Homo sapiens: one gene and its partners. The protein of the gene in region 2 purifies or fractionates together with the protein of the main gene of each other region. This does not show direct contact. Each region holds a gene or a part of one and is shown on either strand. Other genes may lie near its edges.

Region 1 (3,500 bases), on a different chromosome or scaffold from region 2:
CCCAGGTTCGATCATCGCCTAGGAGAACTCACAGGTCTCGGGACATAGTCATGCTTATAGCTCTGACTTATTAGGGGGCAAGGATACAAAGCAGTTAGCCAAGGCAGAAGGCATCAGGGTGAAGTCCAGAGGAAAGCAGGTGTGCTGCCAGGGTCCTCTCCCAGTGGATTCACGCAGGGTGCACTTCATTCCCCCAGCAAGGAGTTGTGACAACACAAGTGAAGGGTTGTCTTCCAGCCCCGCACCAGGGATTGGTGGCTGGTCACATCACCCTCTGCTCTGCATCGAAATCTCAGGCTTGCAGAAGAAAGCAGGTGTTCAGCATAAACCACACTGTTTGTGCAAACAGTTGAGGCACAGTGAGCCCCCCTTGTCACCTTCAGGGAACGATAGGAACCTTCCCCAAGTCCAAGTTCCCAGAGGCCAGCCAAGGGCTGTCCTTGCAAGCAAGCAGGTCTCCTTTCTCAGAAGAGCAGTGTGGGGCCTGCTGTGCTGACTTCCTGCACACCATTTCATTACCCCTCCCGTATCTGATTCCAAGGCCCAATTCTAACAACCTCAGGTGGCCCATTGAGATTTGCTGCTGGTGAGCAGCCAGTTCTGGGAGCATCGTTGTCTAAACTCCAGAAGGCTGCTGACTTTGTCCCAAGGGCAAGTTTGATGGAGGGATTACAGGGAGCAGAGGACTGGAGTGTCCGTCAGGACCAAGCCTGACTGCCTCACCAGCTGCCTGGGGCTGGTGGATTTCTCCAGGAGAAATTGATGCTGGGAGTGTTTCTTCTCTGTGGTCAAGTTCAGCACTTGGGGCTCCCCTCGGGACTGTGTTGAGACTGGACTCTCATGCATGAATCATTGATTCCTACACTTGTTGAGCTCTTACTCTTCACCAGGTCCTGAGGGATCAGATGAGACCCTCCTCAGGCCCCGGCCCCAGCCATTGTCTCATCCCCTGCCCATTTTAAGCCCCCATTTGGAAGAGCTCTAAATCTGGTCCAGCTCACTGAAGCTTCAGGAGTAGGAGCAGCTCGTAGAGTTGGGTCTGCAAGCAGCTGCCTCATCCCCGACTTGCCATCACCTTACAGGATGACCGTGCCCATCAGCATCACCAACCCTGACCTGCTGAGGCACAGCACAGAGCTCTTCATGGACAGCGGCTTCTCCCCACTGTGCCAGCGCATGGGAGCCATGGTAGCCTTCAGGAGATTCGAGGACTTCACCAGGTACCCAGCATGGCCCGGTCTCCAACACCCTGAGCATGGGGGCTGGGCAGACTTCCCTTGAATCCCCCCCCAATTCACTGGACAGATGGGGTGGGAGAGACCCAGACACGTGGCACAGCATGTCAATAACAACAGAATAATAATAGCATTGTAGCCAAGAGTATGAGCCTACATGTCAGCTTGCCTGGCACAGCACATCAATAACAACAGAATAATAAGAGCATCGTAGCCAAGAGTGTGAGCCTGCGTGTCAGCTTGCCTGGTTTGAATTCTGGCTATGTGCTTTCTAACTAAGAGACTGAGCAAAATATTTTTACCTCTCCATACCTTCGTTTTCTTATCTGTAAAATGGGAATAATAAAGGACTCACTTCATAGGTGCGCCATGAGAATTAAATGAGATAACATATGTGAAATAACATATTTAAAGTATAATTAGTATGCAGATAATATAGTGACTAAATGTTAGCTCTCAATAGTTACTGTTATAGTCTTTTTTCAGCCTTTCACTGTGTGTTCTGCTTTGTGCTTGGAGTATCTTGTGGAATTTTCACAACAGCCTCATGAGGCATAGGGATTACTCTTATTACCTTTCTTTGACTCGGGGTGAGGTGAGGTTTCTAGGATCTCCCAGCCAGTAAAAATGGGAGCCAAGAGTTGATCTCAAGCCCAGCTGATGCCTGAAAGCGCTGGAATCCTTCCCTGTATTCCTGATCACAGATCACTTAGGTTCATTCTTCCCTTTTGGGAAGGACCCCATCACGGGTGCTCTGGACAAAGTAGACAGGGAACCTCCTGAGCTCTGTAGAGTTGGATAAGATCAAAGGGTGTTGGCTGGGAAATTGGGAGGGTCTGGCGTTCCCTGCTGCCTGGCTTGGAAGCTTGACCTCATCCCCATGGGTCAGCAGCCCCTCAGCCCTCCCTCTCTACCCGCACCCCCAGAAATTTTGATGAAGTCATCTCTTGCTTCGCCAACGTGCCCAAAGACACCCCCCTCTTCAGCGAGGCCCGCACCTCCCTATACTCCGAGGATGACTGCAAGGTAAGCGTCTAAGCCCAGGGAGCAACCTGGGGAGCAGGTGGGCCGTGGCCCCCAGGCTTTCCAGCCCTACCCCTTGCTTCTCCCTCTCAGAGCCTCAGAGAAGAGCCCATCCACATTCTGAATGTGTCCATCCAGTGTGCAGACCACCTGGAGGATGAGGCACTGGTGCCGATTTTACGGACATTCGTACAGTCCAAGGTACTCTGGGCGTGCCTCTGGTTTTGGTGGGGGTTCTTGGAGAAGGAGGAGGGGCTGGGCTCGTCGAGGCGGCCCTTGGGGAGGCAGGCGTGCTGAGTACTTCAGAGCCACAGACCTGGCTTCCCACTCTAGCTCTGCTCGCCTCATAGCTGGCGACCTTGGGCAGATGTGGCTGAACGTGGGGTCAGCATTTCTCTCGCTCACGGTGTTGCAATGATTCAATGACAAAGTATATACACGGCTTAGCCAGTCCCAGGTACGGAGGGCACACCCAATAAATAGTTTGGAGATTTTCTGGGAGTGTTTTTGTTGGAATAATCCAGAAACTGGCAGTTTTAAAATGGCTACTTACATTGATGACCAAGTGTGCCAATAACAGCAGGTTGCTCTGTAAGCCTGTGATGCCATTGTATTTCAGCCTGGGGGACAGAGCGAGACCCTGTCTCAAAAAAAATTATATATATTTACAGTATACAATGTGATATTTTTTAATTATCTTTTTAATAACAGCTTTATTGAGACATCATTGACATACTACACAATTCACCCATTTAAAGTGTGCAGTTTTGCAGCCATAAAAAAGAATGAGATCATGTCCTTTGCGGGGACATGGATGAAGCTGGAAGCCATCATCCTCAGCAAACTAACACAAGAACAGAAAACCAAACACCGCATGTGCTCACTCATAAGTGGGAGCTGAACATTGAGAACACATGGGCAGAGGGAGGGTAACAACGCACACCGGGGCCTGTCGGGGGGTGGGGGCCGAGGGGAGGGAACTTAGAGGACAGGTCGGTAGGTGCAGCAAACCACCATGGCACATATATACCTGTGTAACAAGCCTGCACGTTCTGCACATGTATCCTGTTTTTTTTTTTAGAAGAAATAAGAAAAAAAGTGTACAATTTAATATATTTTTAGTATATTCACCAGGTTGTACAACCATCACCAGAATCAATTTTAGGACATTCTCATCACTCCATAGAAAAACCCTGTACCTGTTAGCAGTCACTCCCCTCTGTCCCCAACCCAAAAACCCTC
Region 2 (3,932 bases):
AGGCACGGTTCTAACTTGAGTGATCCCATTTAATCATCATAGCTCTTGAAGTAAGTGCTTATCTTCATTCCTCAGAGTGGAAAGGAAGGCACGGAGAGAGAACTAAGTTTCACAAGGTCACCGCTCTTGAGTACAGGAGGCAGGATTCTAGCCCAAGCAGAGTCCATATGTTGTGTACCAGCTACACAGTGAATGGTGGCTACTATGGCGTTTGCCAAAGGGAGAGGGAGGTAGAAGAGGAGGCTGTTTCAGGAATGCTCCATATTTGGAGTAATGAGCACAAGGACTTCATAGCAAGGCCAAGAACAGCGTAAAGCTGCCCGCGCATGAAAAGCAGCCGCGTTGACCGGGCGCGGTGTCACGCCTGTAATCCCAGCACTTTGGGAGGGCGAGGTGGACTGATCGCTTGACACCAGGCGTTCGAGACCAGCCTGGGCAACAGGTGAAAATCCGTCTCTACAAAAAATACAAAAATTAGCCAGGCATGATGGCGTGCGCCTGCGGTCCCAACTACTTGGGAGCCTGAGGTGAGGCATCGCGTGAGCCCGGGGAGGTCGAGGCTGCAGTGAGCCGTGGTCTCGGGAACAAAAAACAGCCGCGCTGAGAATGAGCCCCGTGTGGTTGGTGCGCGGACACGCACTGCCTGCGTAACTAGAGGGAGCTGACGGATGACGCCCCCGCGCCACGCCGCTCAGCGGGATACGCTTCTTGGCGGACTTTGGAGTGGGAAGCGGGGAATGTCTACGTGCGTATGCACGTGGCACTCTCTGCCCGAGGTCCGGGGACTTTCCCCTAGGCGGAAAGGGGAGGAACAGAGTCCTCAGTGTGTAGCCTAGGATACAGGCCTTCAGCACGAACCACGTCCTCAGCTTCACAGAGTAGTATTTTATAGCCCTAAAGAAATTGTGTTTTATGATTAGGGTGAGAAAGTTGGTGGCGTGAGATTAAAAAAACCGTTTTCGGGCATAACTTTCTAAGACTATAGGCTTTCAGAGGCATTGTGGCTAGCAGAATAGCTAATAGACACGAAATGAACAAATACAGGAAAGCTAGAATGACACTATCTTATGCAAATATGGTCTGGCCCCGCCCTACGGGGAGTGGGCGTGGCCTCCCCGGAGCCGGCCGGCCTGCTCGCGTGCGCGTGCGCGTTGGGGCGGCCGGCCAATGCCGGACCGCTTCGGCACCGCCCGCCCGATCCCTCCACCCGTGGGCCGGCAATGGCGGGCGCAGTTTCGCTCTTGGGTGTGGTGGGGCTGCTGCTTGTGTCTGCGCTGTCCGGGGTCCTAGGAGACCGCGCCAATCCCGACCTCCGGGCACACCCAGGTACCAGCTAGGGCTGCTGGAGGAGGGCTGGGACTGCGCACGGGTCCCAGGCCCCAGCTCGGCTGACTCGCCTGTATCCTCCCTCCGCAGGGAACGCAGCCCACCCCGGCTCTGGAGCCACGGAACCCCGGCGGCGACCACCGCTCAAGGATCAACGCGAGCGGACCCGGGCCGGGTCGCTGCCTCTGGGGGCGCTGTACACCGCGGCCGTCGCGGCTTTTGTGCTGTACAAGTGTTTGCAGGTACGGGGCGGCCGGGGGTAGGGGTGCCCCTGCAGGTGCGGGACCGCCGGGCGTGGGGATCCCCTGAGCCCGAATCTCCCATGGGGGTGCCAGGGTACCAAGAACAAGACACAGCTTCCCTGTCTGTAAAATAAAGACAGTAGTCCGTTGGCCTTCCAATATTATGAGGTTATTTTGAGGATCCAGGGAGGTAACGGATGTGAAGAGCGTGTGGTGAACTGTAAATAATGACTATCACATTTAGTTCTCCTACAATCCAGTGAGGAGTAGTCACTTGCTCGAGGTCACCCAGCGCTGGCAACTGCTGGAGCTGGGATTTGAACCCAGCTAGCAGTGTCCATGCTACAAGAGTGGGGCCAGCCTTGGCACAGGAGGTTGATTGCTGCAGCCAGTGTTTCTAGAGTTCCAGATATGAAGTGGTCTCATGTTCTCCTTGGGAGGAGGCCCTGAAATGTAAGTTGACAGTACATTTTGAAAAACAGTACCTTCCAGGGCTGTGTCTTTAGCCGTGACCCTATTACGTACTTGCATTATAAAATAGAACCGATGGAACCAGTTTAGATATATGAAACTAGAAGAGATAGCTAATAATGACCCCAGGTAGATGTGACAGGCTAGGATGAATGACTGAATTTAATGATGAACTTTGAGAAGGATAGACTAGTAAATTCTGTTCTTGGACCTGAGTACAGTCTGGGAGAAACATAATGTAGCAGGAGGTCTTATGAAAGAGAGTTAGGCATTCCAGTTGACTGAGTTCACTGTGGGATGTGACAAGCCACTTCCCAAATCAGTGCTGGGAACATGGCACTGTGCTTCACCTGCCAATCAGAATGCCCCTGGAGAATTGTATTCTCCTCAGGGCATTGCTTTAAGAGCACTACGTGTTCAGGAAACAACCAGAGAAAACCACCGTCAATGAGCACTGACTGTAAAGACTGACGTTAATAAACCAGAAAAAACTCAGGAAAGTGGGTGAGGGTGTGACCATTGCCTTCAAATTCCTGAGGGGCTGTCACCTTGAGGAGACATTATTTTGGAAGGCTCCAGTAAGCACTATGGAAAGAAGATACATAAAGGACAAATTTTGGCTTTGTGCATGAACTGTCTAACAACCAAAGTTTTTGTTTTTTTCGAGATGGAGTCTCGCTCTGTCACCCAGGCTGGAGTGCAGCGGCGCAATCTCGGCTCACTGCAACCTCTGGCTCCCAGGTTCAAGCGATTCTCCTGCCTCAGCCTCTCAAGTAACTGGGATTACAGGCACCTGCCACCACGCCCGGCTAATTTTTGTATTTTTAATAGAGACAGGGTTTCACCGTGTTGGCCAGGCTGGTCTCAAACTCCTGACCTCAGGTGATCCACCCACCTTGGCTTCCCGAAGTGCTGGGATTACAGGTGTGAGCCACAGCACTCAGCCACCAGAGCTTTTTTCAAACCGGAGGGAGTTGCTCATTCCTGGAGGTGTTTCAGCAAACTGACCATGTGTGGGACATAGGACGTCGCTTCATATGCTGGGTGAGGAGCTAGATAGACTAGGATTGTGATTCTCTGAGGTAAAAACCCAATCACTGTCTCCATCTCAAATTGCACTCTCTCTTGGCTGGCTCTGGAGACTGAGGTGATGGAGCAGAACCTTGTTGCTTCAGTACTGCCCTTTCCTTCTTCCACAACAGGGGAAAGATGAAACTGCGGTTCTCCACGAGGAGGCAAGCAAGCAGCAGCCACTGCAGTCAGGTGGGTTTAGCAGAAGTCTGTGCTGGGTCGGGGGAGTTTAGGGGACAGCAGAAGATACATAACCACTTCTGCCCCCTTTTTTCCCTTATCCCCAGAGCAACAGCTGGCCCAGTTGACACAACAGCTGGCCCAGACAGAGCAGCACCTGAACAACCTGATGGCCCAGCTGGACCCCCTTTTTGAGCGGTGAGGAGAGCAATGATTCTGTGAATTTTTGGGGAATTTGTGGCAGGAGGGAGGAATGGGGACATAGGTTGGGAGCCACTGAGTGGACATTTCTTCAGTGTGACTACTCTGGCTGGAGCCCAGCAGGAGCTTCTGAACATGAAGCTATGGACCATCCACGAGCTGCTGCAAGATAGCAAGCCGGACAAGGATATGGAGGCTTCAGAACCAGGTGAAGGCTCGGGAGGCGAGTCTGCTGGAGGTGGAGACAAAGTCTCTGAAACTGGAACATTCCTGATCTCTCCCCACACAGAGGCCAGCAGACCTCTTCCTGAGGACTTCTGTTTAAAGGAGGACGAGGAGGAGATTGGTGACAGTCAGGCCTGGGAGGAGCCCACAAACTGGAGCACAGAGACATGGAACCTAGCTACTTCCTGGGAGGTGGGGCGGGGACTACGGAGAAGG
Region 3 (3,500 bases), on a different chromosome or scaffold from region 2:
ATTATTATGAAAATAGTACATATTTCAAACTCCTTGAAAGGGTCTCCCTGTGAGTCCCTGAATCACACTTTGAGAACTGCTGCTCTACAGTATTCCATTGTGTGAAAACACCACAATTTATTTAGCTATTCTGCTGTTTGTGGACATTTATCTCCACTTTTTACCTGTTGCAAATAGTTTTACTTTGCACATTTTTTTTTTTTTTTTGAGACGGAGTCTTGCTCTGTCGCCCAGGCTGGAGTGCAGTGGCGCGATCTCAGCTCACTGCAAGCTCCGCCTCCTGGGTTCATGCCATTCTCCTGCCTCAACCTCCTGAGTAGCTGGGACTACAGGCGCCCACCACCACACCCAGCTAATTTTTTATATTTTTACTAGAGATGGGGTTTCACCATGTTAGCCAGGATGGTCTTGATCTCCTGACCTCGTGATCCGCCTGCCTCAGCCTCCCAAAGTGCTGGAATTACAGGTGTGAGCCACCGCGCCCGGCCCCACTTTGCACATTCTTACAGTACGTGTCTTTTAGTGAGCATACTATGCATTTCTGTTGGGTATACGTACTTAGACTTGGGATGGATGGGTCATCAATTCAGTTCTGAGTGGAGATTTTGAAATATCTGTAGGAAATTCAAGTGAGATTGTTAACAGGAAGTTGGAGGTGTCTGTCTCCACAACTTAGTAAAGAAGCCAATGTTGCATATTGAAATTTGGGAGTAGGCCAGGCATGGTGGCTCATGCCTGTAATCCCAGCACTTTGGGAGGCCGAGGCAGGCTGATCACGAGGTCAGGAGATCAAGACCATCCTGGCCAACACAGTAAAACCCCATCTCTACTAAAATACAAAAAAAAAAATTAGCCAGGCGTGGTGCCGCGCACCTGTAGTCCCAGCTACTTGGGTGGCTGGGGCAGGGGAGTCGTTTGAACCTGGGAGACGGAGTTTGCAGTGAGCCAAGATCGCACTACTGCACTCCAGCCTGGCAACAGAGCGAGACTCCGTCTCCAAAAAAAAAAAAAAAAGTAATTTGGGAGTCATCATTATACAATTGACAGTGGAACCAGAAAGTTTGCATAAGATTGTCCAGAGCAGAATAAGTTGCGTAAAAAGGGGACCAAGAACTGAACCTAGGGGAATATCAACATGTCCCTGATGAATATAGGAAGGGAAAGCCATGACTGAGAAAGAAGGGTTGGCTGGAGGTAGGAGAAAGTTGTCATTGTGGAAAGGTTGTGTAAAATGTTGGAAAGGGTAAATTGGGCTTTGCTGTGGAACTCATTGTTCACTTTGGTGAGTGGATATTCAGCAAGAATGTATTGAGCTTGTCCATGCGTCAGGTACTGTTCTAAATGTGGAGGGGAGGTACAGCAGTGGACAAACAGGAAAAGATTTTTTCTAAAGATAGGTGATCCTTAGATATGTATAGTGATGGGAAGAGGGAGAATTTGGAGACATGGGAAAGGCAAAGCAAGGATCTTTTCCCACCTTCTCTGTCAGATGAACTCCTCATCCTTATGTCTTGGTATATGAGGCCTTTTTCAGGTAATGAATTTTGTTAGAATTGTTTGTGAGCAAGAGGAAGTCACTTCTGAGCAAAGGCCTGAGGGCCGCCTGTAAGAAAAAGTTTGGGCTAGGCCGGGCGTGGTGGCTCACGCCTGTAATCCCAGCACTTTGGGAGACTGAGGCAGGTGGATCACCTGAGGTCAGGAGTTTGAGACCAGCCTGGCCAACATGGCGAAACCCCACCTCTACTAAAAATTAGCCAGGATTGGTGGTACATGCCTGTAGTCTCAGCTGCTCGGGAGGCTGAGACAGGAGACTCGCGTGAACCCGGGGGGCGGCAGTTGCAGTGAGCTGAGATGGGTCCACTACACTCCAGCCTGGGTGACAGAAGGAGACTCCGCCTCAAAAAAAAAAAAAAAGAAAAGAAAAAGAGAAAGTCTGGGCTTCTTGTCAGCCCTTTAGGTAGTTCTGAGACCCTTTTCACTGACTTGTAGATTGCTCAACAACTTTCTAGAAGATCTGACCTCCAGATAAATGAGGTTTTACAGGATTATGTAATGTCTATTTGTGTCTCTATAGGACAGTGAGCTGTGACAGCTTAGGGAATGTCAGTCCATTTAAAAGCATAACTATGGGAATTAGAAATTGATAAATATTGCAAAATCTCATTTTATTTATCTAATTGTTTTGAGTAGCCATTCCACAGATTTTGAAGTACACCGAAACTGGCTTGCTATCACTCACAGTTTGCCAATATCACAGTGGTATTATGAGGTAAGTTTTAATTTTCACCTTTTTTTTTTTAAGATTCATCTATAAACTAGGTAAATATTACTGATATTAAAAATGTTTTCTGGCTGGGTGCGGTGGCTCACGCTTGTAATCCCAGCACTTTGGGAGGCCAAGGCGGGCAGATCATGAGGTCAGGGGTTGGAGACCAGCCTGGCCAACACAGTGAAACCCTGTCTCTACTAAAAATACAAAAATTAGCTGGGTGTGGTGGTGGGCACCTGTAATCCCAGCTACTCAGGAGCTGAGGCAGGAAAATCACTTGAACCTGGGAGGCGGAGGTTGCAGTGAGCCGAGATCGCGCCACTGCACTCCAGCCTGGGTGACAGAGTGAGACTCTGTCTCAAAAAAAAAAAAATTTTCTTGCAATCATAGATCTAATTAATCTTTATAAAAATTGTGGTCTCTTCTCAGTTCTGTCCTCTTGCACTACTAGGGAATCCCCTTACTTCAAAATGAGTTTCCCAGTCTATAAATTGGGAGGTATAATATCTACCACACTTTTTGAAAGAATAGTGGACTGGGAAAGAGGAAGAACTGGATTCTTAGGCCTGGCTCTGCCACTATCTAGTTACATAGAGAAAAGATACTTCATGTCTCTGGGCCTTAGTGTCTCATCTGGCACATGAGGATTTGGAGTGAATTATTTCTAAGATCCTGTCTGTTCCTAATGTTTTGTGATTTTGTGAGGAAAGGAATAATCAAATGTGATGTGTAGACATCAGGTAATATACAAACCATTCTCTCATATTGTTTATAAAAACTATGTCTGTATTTTTATTTCTTTTTCTTTTCCTTTTTTTTTTTTTTGAGACAGAGTCTCGCTCTTGTCACCCAGGCTGGAGTGCAGTGGCACAATCTCAGCTCACTGCAACCTCCGCCTCCCGGGTTCAAGCGATTCTCCTGCCTCGGCCTCCCAAGTAGCTGGGATTACAGGCGCCCGCCACCATGCCCCAGTTAATTTTTGTATTTTTAGTAAAGAGGGGGTTTCCCCATGTTGGCCAGGCTGGTCTCGAACTCCGGACCTCAGGTGATCCACCCACCTTGGCCTCCCAAACTGCTGGGATTACAGGCGTGAGCCACTGCACCCAGCTTGTATTTTTGTTTCTGGTATGAATTACTAAACTGTGTGTAATACTTTATGAAAAACAGACATTACTCCAGAAATTTCTTCTTTTTTTTTTGAGACGGAGTCTCGCTCTGTTGCCCAGGCTGG
Region 4 (3,500 bases), on a different chromosome or scaffold from region 2:
GCTGCTGTGCGTGCCCCCTTCCCTTCATTGCCCCAAAGCCTGCAGTCCAGCCCCAGGCTCGGGAGCTGCTGCCTCTTCCCTGGGATGTGGAAGGCACCTGCATCCCCGCCCAGCTGCTGCCACTTGCCTGCCTCCATCAGCAGCTTTGTTTTATTTTGTCTGTGTGTTTTTTGAGATGGAGTCTTGCTCTGTCGCCCAGGCTGGAGTGCAGTGGCGTGATCTCGGCTCACTTCAACCTCCGCCTCCCAGGTTCAAGCGATTCTTCTGCCTCAGCCTCCTCAGTAGCTGGGATTACAGGCACCCGCCACCATGCCTGGCTAATTTTTGTATTTTTAGTAGAGATGGGGTTTCACCATGTTGGCCAGGCTAGTCTAGAACTCCTGACCTCAGGTGATCTGCCCACCTCAGCCTCCCAAAGTGCTGGGATTACAGGTGTGAGCCACTGTGCCCAGCCTCCACCAGCAGCTTTTGAAATCCAGAAATTTCCAGGGGAGGGCACTGTGGTGGGTGGGGCCCAGCGCTGTGTCCAGCTCGAGGCCTGGCTGCACTGCCACCTCCTTTGGTGCCCACCCCTGTGTCTTGCCAGCAGCTGCTGCACATTGGGCTTCGGGGATGCAGGACTCCAGCACCCCCAGCTCAGCCTGCTTCCTGGACCAGGAACCCCAGCCGAGGAGGGGGCATTTGTATCTCTGCCATCCCTGCTGGCAACTGGTCCTGAGAAAGCCCAGATGGTTGGTGCAGAGGGGGCGTCAGGGGCTGCACCACCCTAAGAACATGACATGTCACCCCCCAGCCCCCCGCAACACACACACACAGGTTCACACCTCACACCCCTGATCTTGGCGGCTCCCTGGAGCACAGCACCCGCTTCCCGTGTCTGTGGTTGGCTTATGACGCCCCAGCCACTCTAACCGGGTTAAGGGGAGCCCAGAGCCTGGGGCCGGATAGGAAAAAGCCCAGAGAAGTCAGGGGATGGTCAGTCCCCTGAAGCTGCCCCTGGGGGTTCTTGATCTTCTGAACTGAGTTCGAGGCAAGCCCTGGAGGGGCGAGGAGGAGAAAGAAACAGCTCTCTGGGCCAGGACCCGCTGTTCGTGGGATGTCTGGGGAGCTGTGTGAACCCACAGGCCGTTTTGTTTCTCTCCATCAGCAGCTGTGGGCTGAAGCGTGTACCGGCGGAGTGGGTTGAGATCGTGTCTGCGCCCACTTGCCACCAGCTCCGGCCTCTGGGGAGGTGGTGCTGAGAGGGAGGGAGAGTGGCTCCTGTTTGGCTCCTGGAGACAGACAGCTGGGTGTCCCACCCTCAGAGTCCCCAGCCCCCTCTCCCCTCTGCTAACTCTGCCGGTGGAGCTCACGCCGCAGCTCATGCCAACCCTGCCCTTCTGTTTTGCCTCTCATGACTCTCCCCAAATTCTGCCCCCAGGCCCCCAGCCAGCCTTCTTGCCACTTTCCTGCCCTTTACTCTTGCCCCTTCTACCTCTTGCCAGGGCAGCGTCACTGGCTACGTGAGGCCCAGCTTGGGGATGCATGGGGAGGTGTAAGAACAGCTGTGCCATGAGCTGTCCTTCCGGGCCTCTGGGGCTGGAGAAACCCCGGGGTCAGCAGTACCACGGGTTTTGCTGGGGATTGCACAGTGGGTGAGGCTCAGCTTCCTCTTTGCAGCTTTCTAAAAATGCCCTGGTTCCCAGCAGGGCCACAGGCAGGGAAAATGAGTTTCAGTTTCTGTGGCAAGGGAGCTGGGGAGAGAAGCAGTTTCCTTGTCCCCAGCCCTCACCCTAGCATCCTGTGATTCAGCCGCGAAGACGTGGCCCCAAGCCTCCCACCGCCCTCCTTCTGTCCTGACTGCCCACTCCCAGGGACACCAGGTGACGCCTCGCCCACCCGCGGCTCCGGAGCCAGGCTGGAAGCAGCTTCCCGCCCAGGGGGTGGTTTCCCCACATCCTGTCTTCAGATGGCTTGAGCCCCCTAAACTTCCTGGTCATATCCAGTGGATAATAATGGTCTCCCTCTTTCCTGTCTGGAGGGGAGGGGGCTGCTTACTTCTTATCCAAGGGCCTGTCCCGTCCCACCCCTGTGTCCCCATTTCTGGCCACACGCAGGCTCAGCCCTTGCATCAAGCCTCTGCCTGTTTCCCTCTGGGCTGCACCTGTCACGCTCTCCCTGCCCTGCCCCATAAAGCCCATAGAGCCCAGGGCTTGTGGGGACTGCACCCTTCATTAGCAAGACTCAGAGCTTCTAGAAACCCACTTGTGTGGGGGTGGGGAGTGCAGGGAGATTGGTGGCACCAGGTGGAGAGAGGGAACTGCACCTGGGGGAGTTGGGAGGGGCAGTGGGCTGGGCCCGCGTGGAGGAGTGTGGCTTGTACAGTCCGCATGGCGGGGGGACCCTTGTACCCTGCCTGGACTGGCTGGTAGAGCTGTTGGGGACCTCCCTGGGGGTGGCCTTGCTTACCCAGCTGTGCGGAACAGGCTTGGTTGGGAGTGCCTGGCCTCACCCTTTGTGGGGAAACCAGATTCTCTGGGCAGCAGTGGTAAATGGTGTCTGAGTCTGTGTTTCGTTGGATGTGTCTGAGGTCCGCTGCTGCCAGCTGGGTTATGCTGTCTCCAAAGCTATCTGCAGTGGGGGAGGCCCTGAGCCTGGGCAGGGGAGGGTACAGAGGCCTCAACCCATGGGACCTGGGGGTGATCTGAACTCTGCACTTCACTTTTTTTCAGGATTTCCCCCGCCCCACCCTAAAGGAGGAGGAAATAGAGTCTGTCCCACCCTAAGCCCCAGTCCCTCTCCCCAGGTCTCTTTGGCATCTCCCAGCTGGGCTGGGGCTGAAGGCCCTTCTCTGGGGTTGGCCACAGTGAGGCCAGGATCTGGCTGGGCAGGTGGCAGTGTTCCGCCTGTGGGCTGGGTGCGGAGGCGGGCCTGGGGGTCTTAGAGAGAGAGCGGCGGATGTGACTGCGGGCCAGGAGGAAGCCTGGTCCCAGGATGTCACCATTTCCCCTGCAGTGAGCAAGCATCTCTAGGGCTCGGAGATAAGTGCTGGGTGGGGTAGCTCCAGCTCTCCAGCGCTTTTTTCTGTCTGGTTCCTGCCATCTGGACTTGAGCCATGAGGAAGGCCAGAGTGGGTCTGACAGTCCCCACTCCTTTCCCCGCTGAGCCCCAAGGAAGGGGCTGGGCCTTTGCACCCCCACCCCAACTTCTGCACGAGTTGGAGGCAGTTGATCTCAATGGTGGAAAGTGGCTGGTGCAAAGTCATGCTTCCATACTCCATGTTTAGGCTTCATGGGTGTCAAAGCTGGGCCGTGACCTTGTCCCATTCCCTCAGAGAAGGGAACTGAGGCCAGAGGGTGGAGCTGCTCTCAGGCCGCTGCCCAGGCCTCTTGTGCTCTGCGGTTCAGATGGCACTCCCGATGCCAGGCTCCTGCCCAGGAAGACATGCCCACCCGCCCTGGCCCTGTCTCTGCTGTCTGGTGTCAGGCCACCTCTCTTCGGGACCCCCCCCCAACTGATTG
Region 5 (3,500 bases), on a different chromosome or scaffold from region 2:
AATCTCTTCTTCAAACTCATCTTTTATCTCAGGGGTCAGAAAACATTGAGAGGGTCAAATAGTAAATATTGTAGGCTATGTTGGCTACCTGTAGTCTCCATCACATATTCTTTGTCTTTATTATTTATGATCCTTTTAAAATGTAAAAAAAAAATTTAGCTTGCAGGCTGTACAAAAACAGGCCCACGGACCATCATTTGTGAGCACCTTCTTCATAGCACTGCCAGGTTAGCCTCCTAAAATGCATCTCTAGTCATGTCACTCCTCTCTCTACTTTTTGGTAATTTGTTTTAGCCTGCCATATAATATTAAAACATTTTAGCCTGAGATCAGGAGCCCCTCCAAATTGGTGCTAAAATACTATCTGAGCTGCATCTCACATTATTTTCTTACAGACTTTGTGTGCTTTTGCATTTTTATGCTTTGCTCTCTGTTTTTCTCTGCACTTTAAAAAAGTCTACCCATATTTCAAGGCCAACATTTATGCTCTCTTAAAGTCTCCTCTTACCCAGAAGTGGTTTTTCCTCTCAGAACTCTGCAAGTAATCTGACCATATCCTTTTCTCTACTTGTGTTGATTGCCTTCTGCTGGATACTTGTAACTTCTCTTTTAGTTTGTAAGGCAGAGGGTACTATCTATAGAGAGAGACATTATCTTTATTGCGCAGAACACTTAGCACCATTTACTTGTTGGGTAGAATGTGTTGGAAAATAAAAACTATGAGAAGAAAATGTGAGAAAAGTCTTGTTTGGCCAGGTGTGATGGCTCACTCCTGCAATCCCAGCACTTTGGGAGGCTGAGGCAGGAGAATTCCTGGAGGCCAGGAGTTCAAGACCGGCCTGGGCAACATAGCAAGACCGTATCTCAAATAAATAAACACAAATTTTTTTTAATCTTTTTTTTTTTTTTTTTTTTTTTAGACGGAGTCTGGCTCTGTCACCCAGGCTGGAGTGCGGTGGCGCGATCTCGGCTCACTGCAAGCTCCGCCTCCCGGGTTCACGCCATTCTTCTGCCTCAGCCTCCCTAGTAGCTGGGACTACAGGCACCTGCCACCATGCCTGGCTAATTTTTTTTGTATTTTTAGTAGAGACGGGGTTTCACCATATTAGCCAGGATGGTCTCGACCTCCTGACCTCGTGATCCGCCCGCCTCAGCCTCCCAAAGTGCTGGGATTACAGGCGTGAGCCACCGCACCCAGCTGGAAAAAAAAAATCTTATTCATAACAAGCTTTCAACTTTACCATGATTGTGGGGCTAAAGTCCAAGGACATTATACAGCAAGGCTCTGTTGTGTTTTTTATCCTTAGGGATTTAAGAAAATCTGTGGACTTTCTTTGATGGAGATAATGGAATTTTTTTTAGTGGGTTATTTTCTGTATAGTAGATGATATTCAATATACAAACTAATCTCTGCTTTGCTTAAACATATTTCTTCTTTTATAATAGTCTAAGGAAAAATTGATTAACAGCTTGAAAGAAGGCTCTGGTTTTGAAGGCCTAGATAGCAGCACTGCCAGTAGCATGGAGCTGGAAGAACTTCGGCATGAGAAAGAGATGCAGAGGGAGGAAATACAGAAGCTGATGGGCCAGATACATCAGCTCAGATCCGAATTACAGGTAAGATTCATGGTGGTTCAGCTTAGTAGACACCATTTACCCTCAGGTGTTAACAGTTTGAGAGGTGGGGAAACAGCATTACTAAAGCGATAGGTTTCTCGCTTCTCTTCGCTTCGCTTCGCTTCTCTTCTCTTCCTCCTCCTCTTCCTCTTCTCTTCTTTTGGAGTCAGGATCTTGCTCTGTCTCCCAGCCTGGAGTGGTGTGATCATAGCTCACTGCAGCCTCGAACTCCTGGGCTCAAGCAGTCTTCCCGCCTCAGGCTCCCAAGTAGGTGGAACTACAGGCACATGCCATCACGCCCAGCTAATTTTTATATTTTGTAGAGACAGGGTATCCCTGTGTTGTCCAAGCTGGTCCCAAACTCCTGGCCTCAAGTGATTGTCCCTCCTCAGCCTCCCAGAGTGCTGGGATTGCAGGGCTGTTGCAGCCCGTGCTGGGCTAAAGCAGTAGGTTTCTTTCTTTCTTTCTTTCCTTTCTTTCCTTTCTCTCCTTTCTTTCCTTCCTTTCTTTCCTTTCTTTCCTTCTTTTTTTTGAGATGGAGTCTCGGTCTGTTGCCCAGGCTGGAGTGCAGTGGCGTGATCTCGGCTCACTGCAACCTCCACTCCACCTGCCAGGTTCCAGGGATTCTCCTGCCTCAGCCTCTTGAGTAGCTGGGATTACAGACGTGCGCCACCACACCTGGCTAATTTTTGTATTCTTAGTAGAGATGGGGTTTCACCATGTTGCCCAGGCTGGTCTTGAACTCCTGACCTCAAGTGATCCGCCCACCTCGGCCTCCCAAAGTGCTGAGATTAGAGACGTGAGCCACCATGCCCGACCAGGTTTCTAATCCATAAGTTGACCATAAAGTTATGGTGATAAAAAACAGATCAATTCATTCAACAAATAGTTACCAAGTGCCTGCCATGTGCCTAGGTTTGGAATTAGAACAGGGTCTTCATAATTATAGATCTTACATTCTAGTGGTTAAAAGCAAATCAGATTTGAGCTCCTATGTGAAGCTGAGATGTTTTCTAATATTAGTATGGGCTCAGGGATGATCTTCTAATTACAGTTTTATCCTTATTCTTATAATTTATAGTTTATGTATAATTACTATATTTAAAAGTAAAGTTGGGCCATTTATTTTGCTTAAACTTCGGGGTCTTTGACATAAATATCGTAGGAAGGAGTCTCTGAAGGTGAGAGAAGATAAAGTGCAGCATAACGAGCTTCCTTTTCTTAAAAGGAAGAAACTTTTTGTAGAGAATGTTCATCCATGCATTAACTCTGCACATTGTGAGACTTGTGAACTACAAAAGAAAGCGTGAAAGTTGTGAGAATAGGATACCTTGTCTAGAGCATAGACTTGAATAGCAGACAGACGTGGATAGATTCTGTCTTTGGTACTTAACAGATGCTGCTTCCACAAGGCACTTCATCTTGCGGAGCTTTAATTTTCTCATCTATAGAATGCAGGTAAACAAAGGTTCTCTTGACAATAAAGGATAATATATGAAGAGCCTAGCATTGTTTCTGACATGTAATAGACCCTCAGTTAAATAATAGCTGCTATTATTTCTGGGTTTATTGTTATTCATTAAAGTAGGATTTTTTTTTTAATCTGTGAATTTGAATTCCAAAGAATTCAGTCCTGCAAACTTAGAAATTGGGTAGATGCTAAACTTACTCATATCTGTTCATGTCTTTTTGGTGAGATTATGAAAAATACTTGTTTTATTTAATATATCAGCATCATTAATGACATTGACCCATTTTCTTACCCTTCTCAAAATTTATGCAATGTATAATAAGTGTTAGGTCTAACAAAATGAAAGAATTGTAAATAATTACAATAGCTATTGTTTACTGAGCACGTATGTTCCAGATACTGCACAGAGCAC
Region 6 (2,334 bases), on a different chromosome or scaffold from region 2:
ATCTTATCCCGAGGGACCAACAGCAGGCATACCTTTGCCAGGCCTTCTTGCAGAAAGACACAGAGCCGTAAAGGCAAAAATAAAATTGCAATAAAGTATATGGTATTGGGGGCAGGGAGAACCAGAAACCCTCAAAGAGAACCAATTTGTAGCACGTTCTTTTTTAAGGCTCTACCCCTGTAGAAGTAAGAAACTAGCCTGCCTTTTTAGCCATATGAGAGTTTCCTCCAGAGCCATCTTCCAAAGTGGCAGACTTGGCCAAGTTGCCCAATGCCAAATAAGTGAGTTGGAAGTTCGTTTGCTTCAAACACACTGCACTTAGAAACCAGACTTGAAATAATCGAAGCCCCACAGAAAAGCTTCATGAAACGAAGTGTTACTTTCCTAGAGAATAAGAAAGTCACAAGATTGAGGAGTCTGTTCTAAAGTTCTTTGCTCCTTGATGTCGAAGTTAACACAAACACAATCTTAGCTTAACGAAACTAAGTAATTTTTGTTTATGATTATAGAACTGCAGGATTCACAAGTAGTATTAGAGACATTCCACACTGCACACTCCAGTCATATCTCTTAACAAAATGACATAAATTGACAATGTTCACTAACAGTATTTGCTGTTACACTGAAAAGGCACATCAATGTTGTCATGCTTAGAAAAATACACAACACTGCACACTGGATGATATAGTTAGCACATACATTTTTAGATGTTCCATTTTTCTTTTCTGCCTGATCACTATTATTTTTACTTCTTAATATATGATTCAAGACATAATTTCATTCTTCATTTTCATTTAAAATTTGTCTTCACATTGATGTGAACAACTTTCAGGAGTCTAAAAAATAGTAGTTTCAGACAACCTAAAATAAATATATTCCTAGAAAACACTTGGATGACCTGCAAACAGATCAAAGATATAGTCAGATATTAAAGTCAGAGCAGCTGTTTTCAGCTTCTTGTTTCCTTTTCTAAAACTTGAAGTAGATGGCGATTAACCTTATCATGTTTAAACAACCTTGACAGTATAAGGTACATGTACCCTCAATTTTCTTCATCCAGTAAGACAAGTATGCATCTTAAAGGGAAAGCTTTTAGTTCATAACAATATGTTTGGTTGCTTTTCTCTGCTTTCGGAACATTTACTGTTTTTCCTTTATTGGCTTTAGTGTTTGCTGCCAACCAGATAACATGTTAACATATAATTTACAACTCTCTCTAGGTAGGTGATTACATAGAAAACTAATGCCAGCTAAGATTTATGGATTCAAAAGATAACTGACACAAGTTCTTGTCCTCTACACTTGAGAGAACTAGCTGTTTAACGCATAAATATATTGATAGTAACTACAAGTTAAATAACATTCAGTGTCACTATATAACATGCTGTCTTACTTGATTCTGTTTTTCAGACTTCATTCTAGTTTCTCTTTGTTGGAAGAGTCTCAGAGATAATGTGTGCTTTAATTTTAAACACTCATTACCAATATGATTTTTGCCCAAATGTTTGTTAATGTAAGTTAAAAAATTATATTTGGTTTGGATTCAAATATTTATAGATTTACACAATACCTATTTCATCAAAATATATTGTATGATATTTAATAAAATTAAATACATAAAATAAAGTTTCAACACTATTTATACAAACCCCTAGAAAAGCTTCTTTTTCTTTATAAGGCTGTTGGCAATCGACCATAACCATGGAAAGGAAATAATAACCTTTGGTTTTACTCTTTCACCAGGGATGGATGGTATGACTAAGACAGTTCTGGATGAGTTGTGTCACTGGAAACACTGTTTTATACAATTAAACACTTTGATGATTTTTGAGGATCTCATCTCAGTCACTTTCAGATTCTTCATCTTCACCTATCGGATATGACTGGATATTATTCTGAGTGTACATTTTTGTTTTAATAGGGCAGTTGTGATCCATGAGAATAGCCTAAAAGAGAGCAAAGTGCAAGTATATTAACTTCTTGTTTCATAAAGATAAGATGGTTTTAACCTACTGTTTTTAAGGATTATTAGTTTGAAAACTATGTAGTATTACTTGCTATTAACCAGTCATTTGGAGCAATCGCCAGACGCCTGACCTAAAAGACCTGTAGTTCTACACTCTAAAAATTCCAGGCAATTGGAGACAGAAGTGGTCTCTGCAGTATTTTCATTATACCTGTCAGGGGCCATAAGTCCACTCTGGGAACTTATACTCTATGAAGCAAGGGACAGGCAGGTTAGGTTTGTTATACTTAGAATCTTGGAATTGGGGTATGGGGATCCTGGAGGTCACCCAGTCCAACTTCTGTTTACAGACGTCATTGTAGCAACAC
Region 7 (3,500 bases), on a different chromosome or scaffold from region 2:
CTCTGACCTTGCAATAAATAGTCATAAAACGTTATTTTTATTTTATTACTATTATTTTTAGAGACAAGGTCTCGCTCTGTTCCCCGAGCTGGAGTGCAGTGGGAGTCACAGCTCACTAGCCTCAAGCAATTCTCCAGCCTCAGCCTCCCAAAGTAGTGGGATTTCAGGCATGAATCACCACACCTGGCCTTGAAACATTATTTTTAAAGCCTAAATTCCAGTTGGTATGGTACCAAAATTTAGTTTAACTTCAAAATTCACAGTACTGCCGAGAAATGGGCGGGTCCTGAGGTTCCAGAGAAGTGGGGAGTGAATTCATTCCTGGTGGTTTTATTCTGGCAGCATGCATGGGAAATCACATGAGTTAGAGGGCTGTGGCCTGCTATCAACACTTCAAGCTGTTGTACTTTTACTTCAAGATGAAACTTTTAAAATACATCTGTCATATAGATGTACAAATATATGTAGATGCAAACATATATACACACTTTTTGACAAAAGAATTGTGGTAATATACGTGAACCATTTTTGTAAATAGATTCTATTTGGTTAATAAAAATATTCCTTCCATCAACCTATCGAAGTCCAGACCAACTATGAAGATAGGATGCCCATCCAGAAGAACGGGAAGCATTTTCTTCCTCACCTTTGGAAAGTAAAACAAAAAAAAAAAGAAAAATAAAAGAAAAAAGAGAGTATTAAAATTTCTCAATGTAAAATCTATATTTTAGAATCACTCTACAATATAAGCAAATAATGTGTTTTTTACTGATTACATGCCTTTTTTTTGGGGGGGGGGGTTCTTTTTTTTTGAGACAGGGTCTTGCTCTGTCACCCAGGCTGGAGTGCAGTGGCGTGATGAGACTTCAATGCAGCCTTGATCTCCCAGGCTCAAGTGATTCTCCCACCTCAGCCTCCCAAGCAACTGGGACCACAAGGTGTGTGCCACCATGCCTGGGTAATTTTTTGTTTTTTTTGTGGAGATGCGGGTCTCACTGTTTTCCAGGCTGGTCTCAAATTCCTGGGCTCAAGTGATCCTCCCACTTCAGCCTCACATTGTTGGGATTACAGTCACGAGCCACTGTACCCATCCATATGTCATTCTTTAGACACACTACTTACTAAATTTCTCTTTTTAAAGGATATACTGAATTTCCGGTTGAGCCAACTTAACAGCTAATTTTCTATTTTAGCTTTAAAACATTGATAAGCAACATGAAGCAATCTAGAACTTAACCTTTAAATGGCTTTATTAAAGAAATCCAGCTATGAAAATCATGCAGAAATGATTATTTACAAACAATCCTACCAGCACATAAGAAATTCTTCTTCTATTCTGAAATACCATCTTCTCACAATATACTTTGATGTTATGAATCAATGTCTGTTCTCGAACATTATTTGTCTTTCTCCATTAAACAATACCAAAATAAAATTTCCAGCACAACTAAGTATTGTTGACGATAAGAGGATTTAAAAAAAAATTCTTTTAAAACAGAAGCTTATATACAACTTAGAATCTAAAACCAATAGATTTATGGTAAACCTTAAAACTGAACCAAAACAAACAAAAACCAAAGTTTTAATCATTTAAAAATCATGTTTATTGAGGTACAACTTACTTATAGTAAAACCTGCCCTTTTCAGCATATAGCACTGAGTCTTGACAAATGCACAGTTACGTACCACCACCGACCAAGGCCTGGCACATTTTCACCTCCTCAAAGTTCTCCCTGGCTGCTTCTCCCACTCCTTGGCAACCGCTAACCTGTTTTCTGTCCTTATAGTTCTGCTTTTTTCAGAGTGTCATATAAGTAGAATCACACTGTACATAGTATTTTGAGTCTGACCTCTGTCAACTGGCATAAGGCATTTGAGAATTATCCATGTTGCTGTACTGGCAGTGCATTCTTTTTTATTGCTGAGCAGTATTCAATTGCATGGCTGTACCAGTTTATTCATTTGCCAGTTGAAGGATAACTGAGATCTTCCTCGTTTTTAGCAATTTTAAAGAAAGTTTCTATGAATAATTGTGTACAGGTTTTTAATTAAATGTTTTGGAGATATAATTCATATACCACATAATTCACCTTTTTAAAGTGCATAAGTCACTGGTTTTTAATATATTCACAAGGTTTGTGCATAGGTTTTTGTGTGAATACTGGTTTTCATTCCTCTTGGATAAAGATTTAATTTGGTATTATCCTTCCAGACACCTTTCTGTGTTTTCATACGTATATATGTATGTCAGTTTGACCTTAGGCAGAGTAGCATTTTCAAAATTTTACATGGGGAAATTTTCTAGAGTTAAAGCCATTTTATTTTTCTGTTCTGTCTGGTTTTATCTGCGTGTTATTTACAATCTGCTGCGTAACAAATTACAAAGTTAGTACCTTAACACATATTTATTTCACAGTTTCTGTGGGTCAGGAGATCAGAAATGGTTCTATTTCAAGGACTCTCACAGGGCTGCAATCAAGATGTTGGCATGGCTGGGGTCTCATCTGAAGGCTGGACTGGAGAAGAATCTACTTCCAAACTTATGTGGTAGTTGGAAGAATTTAGTTCCTCAAGGCCGCTAAACTGATGGCCTGTGTTCCTTGCCTATGGGATGGTAGCTTGCTTCAACAAAGTGTGCAAGCAGAGAAGACAGAGAGTCCGCTAGCAAGATAGAAGCCACAATCTCTTGTAATCTATCATTTTTGCTGTATTCTACTGGTTAAAAATAACTCATTAGGTTAGCCTACTGGCTCTCAAGGGGAAGAGATTATACAAAGGCATGAATTTCTGGAGGAGGGAATGAGGGCAAAGAATTCTGAGAAGTCTGTCTTCCACAATCTGAAGAACTTCTAGAAAGTAGGAGGAAGCGATATTGCTTAGGGATGGACAACTTGGCACTGGTTATGTATTTCAAGTGAGGTAACCTTGTTCCCAAGAATAAAGAGAACCAGACGACTGTAAACATTTCCCTAAACTGAAATGCAGACTGTTGTATGTTCCCCTGAAATGAATGGTGTAAGCTGAATATAAGATTTTTGACAAAAATTTTGCTGTGTTCTCAGATCTGGCAGGCCCCTGCCCTTGTGCAAACAATGTTCCTGGCAGCTATTCATCTCCTTAGGTAAATAAGAATTGGAGAAAAGCTGTGCTAAGATAGGATGCATTTGCTCTTGCCTTGGAAGGTTGTTTTCTGATAAGGTTCTATATCCTCAGCAAATCAAATCAGGCACTTACAGTGTGAGTATGCATTCTCTGCCTGCCAGTCTGGAGATGATCAAAAAGCCTATAACAGGCTTGGCCTATTTTCCTATTGGGTTGCTGGGCTTTTTTTTCGTCTTTATTTACTTGTAGAGAGTTTTAGACCTCTGTGTATGTATGGTGTACAAGTGACAATATTCAGATCTGTAAACTGTAACACAGTCTGGGAGCAAAGAAGATATAGAAAAATGACTTTTACTTCCTGCTTGAGTAGTAAAATTGAGATTCAAATTTTGCATATA

Evidence for each region.
Region 1: the proteins of CCDC107 (region 2) and ACACB purify together in Homo sapiens (affinity purification with mass spectrometry; one large-scale study listed by BioGRID and IntAct). This does not show direct contact.
Region 3: the proteins of CCDC107 (region 2) and ALG8 purify together in Homo sapiens (affinity purification with mass spectrometry; 2 studies listed by BioGRID and IntAct, with this or other methods). This does not show direct contact.
Region 4: the proteins of CCDC107 (region 2) and RHBDF2 purify together in Homo sapiens (affinity purification with mass spectrometry; one large-scale study listed by BioGRID and IntAct). This does not show direct contact.
Region 5: the proteins of CCDC107 (region 2) and GOLGA5 purify together in Homo sapiens (affinity purification with mass spectrometry; 2 studies listed by BioGRID and IntAct, with this or other methods). This does not show direct contact.
Region 6: the proteins of CCDC107 (region 2) and PDZD8 purify together in Homo sapiens (affinity purification with mass spectrometry; one large-scale study listed by BioGRID and IntAct). This does not show direct contact.
Region 7: the proteins of CCDC107 (region 2) and GCC2 purify together in Homo sapiens (affinity purification with mass spectrometry; 2 studies listed by BioGRID and IntAct, with this or other methods). This does not show direct contact.

Annotation. Positions count from the first base shown.
Region 1 is NC_000012.12:109,231,587-109,235,086, forward strand, and holds part of ACACB (acetyl-CoA carboxylase 2), read left to right. Parts: intron 1-1,082; coding exon 1,083-1,220; intron 1,221-2,161; coding exon 2,162-2,261; intron 2,262-2,351; coding exon 2,352-2,459; intron 2,460-3,500. UniProt on the Homo sapiens protein: Mitochondrial enzyme that catalyzes the carboxylation of acetyl-CoA to malonyl-CoA and plays a central role in fatty acid metabolism.
Region 2 is NC_000009.12:35,657,160-35,661,091, forward strand, and holds the start of CCDC107 (coiled-coil domain-containing protein 107 isoform A precursor), read left to right. Parts: upstream 1-1,132; 5' UTR 1,133-1,220; coding exon 1,221-1,326; intron 1,327-1,416; coding exon 1,417-1,568; intron 1,569-2,183; exon of another isoform or gene 2,184-3,241; coding exon 3,242-3,302; exon of another isoform or gene 3,303-3,397; coding exon 3,398-3,488; exon of another isoform or gene 3,489-3,586; coding exon 3,587-3,932.
Region 3 is NC_000011.10:78,126,127-78,129,626, reverse strand, and holds part of ALG8 (dolichyl pyrophosphate Glc1Man9GlcNAc2 alpha-1,3-glucosyltransferase), read left to right. Parts: intron 1-2,187; coding exon of another isoform or gene 2,188-2,190; coding exon 2,191-2,269; intron 2,270-3,500.
Region 4 is NC_000017.11:76,491,424-76,494,923, reverse strand, and holds part of RHBDF2 (inactive rhomboid protein 2), read left to right. Parts: intron 1-1,769; exon of another isoform or gene 1,770-1,862; intron 1,863-3,500. UniProt on the Homo sapiens protein: Regulates ADAM17 protease, a sheddase of the epidermal growth factor (EGF) receptor ligands and TNF, thereby plays a role in sleep, cell survival, proliferation, migration and inflammation. Does not exhibit any protease activity on its own.
Region 5 is NC_000014.9:92,814,805-92,818,304, forward strand, and holds part of GOLGA5 (golgin subfamily A member 5), read left to right. Parts: intron 1-1,446; coding exon 1,447-1,617; intron 1,618-3,500. UniProt on the Homo sapiens protein: Involved in maintaining Golgi structure. Stimulates the formation of Golgi stacks and ribbons. Involved in intra-Golgi retrograde transport.
Region 6 is NC_000010.11:117,276,774-117,279,107, reverse strand, and holds the end of PDZD8 (PDZ domain-containing protein 8), read left to right. Parts: 3' UTR 1-1,834; downstream 1,835-2,334. Other genes in the region: SLC18A2 (synaptic vesicular amine transporter), read right to left, coding at 1,842-1,946. UniProt on the Homo sapiens protein: Molecular tethering protein that connects endoplasmic reticulum and mitochondria membranes. PDZD8-dependent endoplasmic reticulum-mitochondria membrane tethering is essential for endoplasmic reticulum-mitochondria Ca(2+) transfer.
Region 7 is NC_000002.12:108,504,706-108,508,205, reverse strand, and holds part of GCC2 (GRIP and coiled-coil domain-containing protein 2), read right to left. Parts: intron 680-3,500; exon of another isoform or gene 647-679; coding exon 576-646; 3' UTR 1-575. UniProt on the Homo sapiens protein: Golgin which probably tethers transport vesicles to the trans-Golgi network (TGN) and regulates vesicular transport between the endosomes and the Golgi.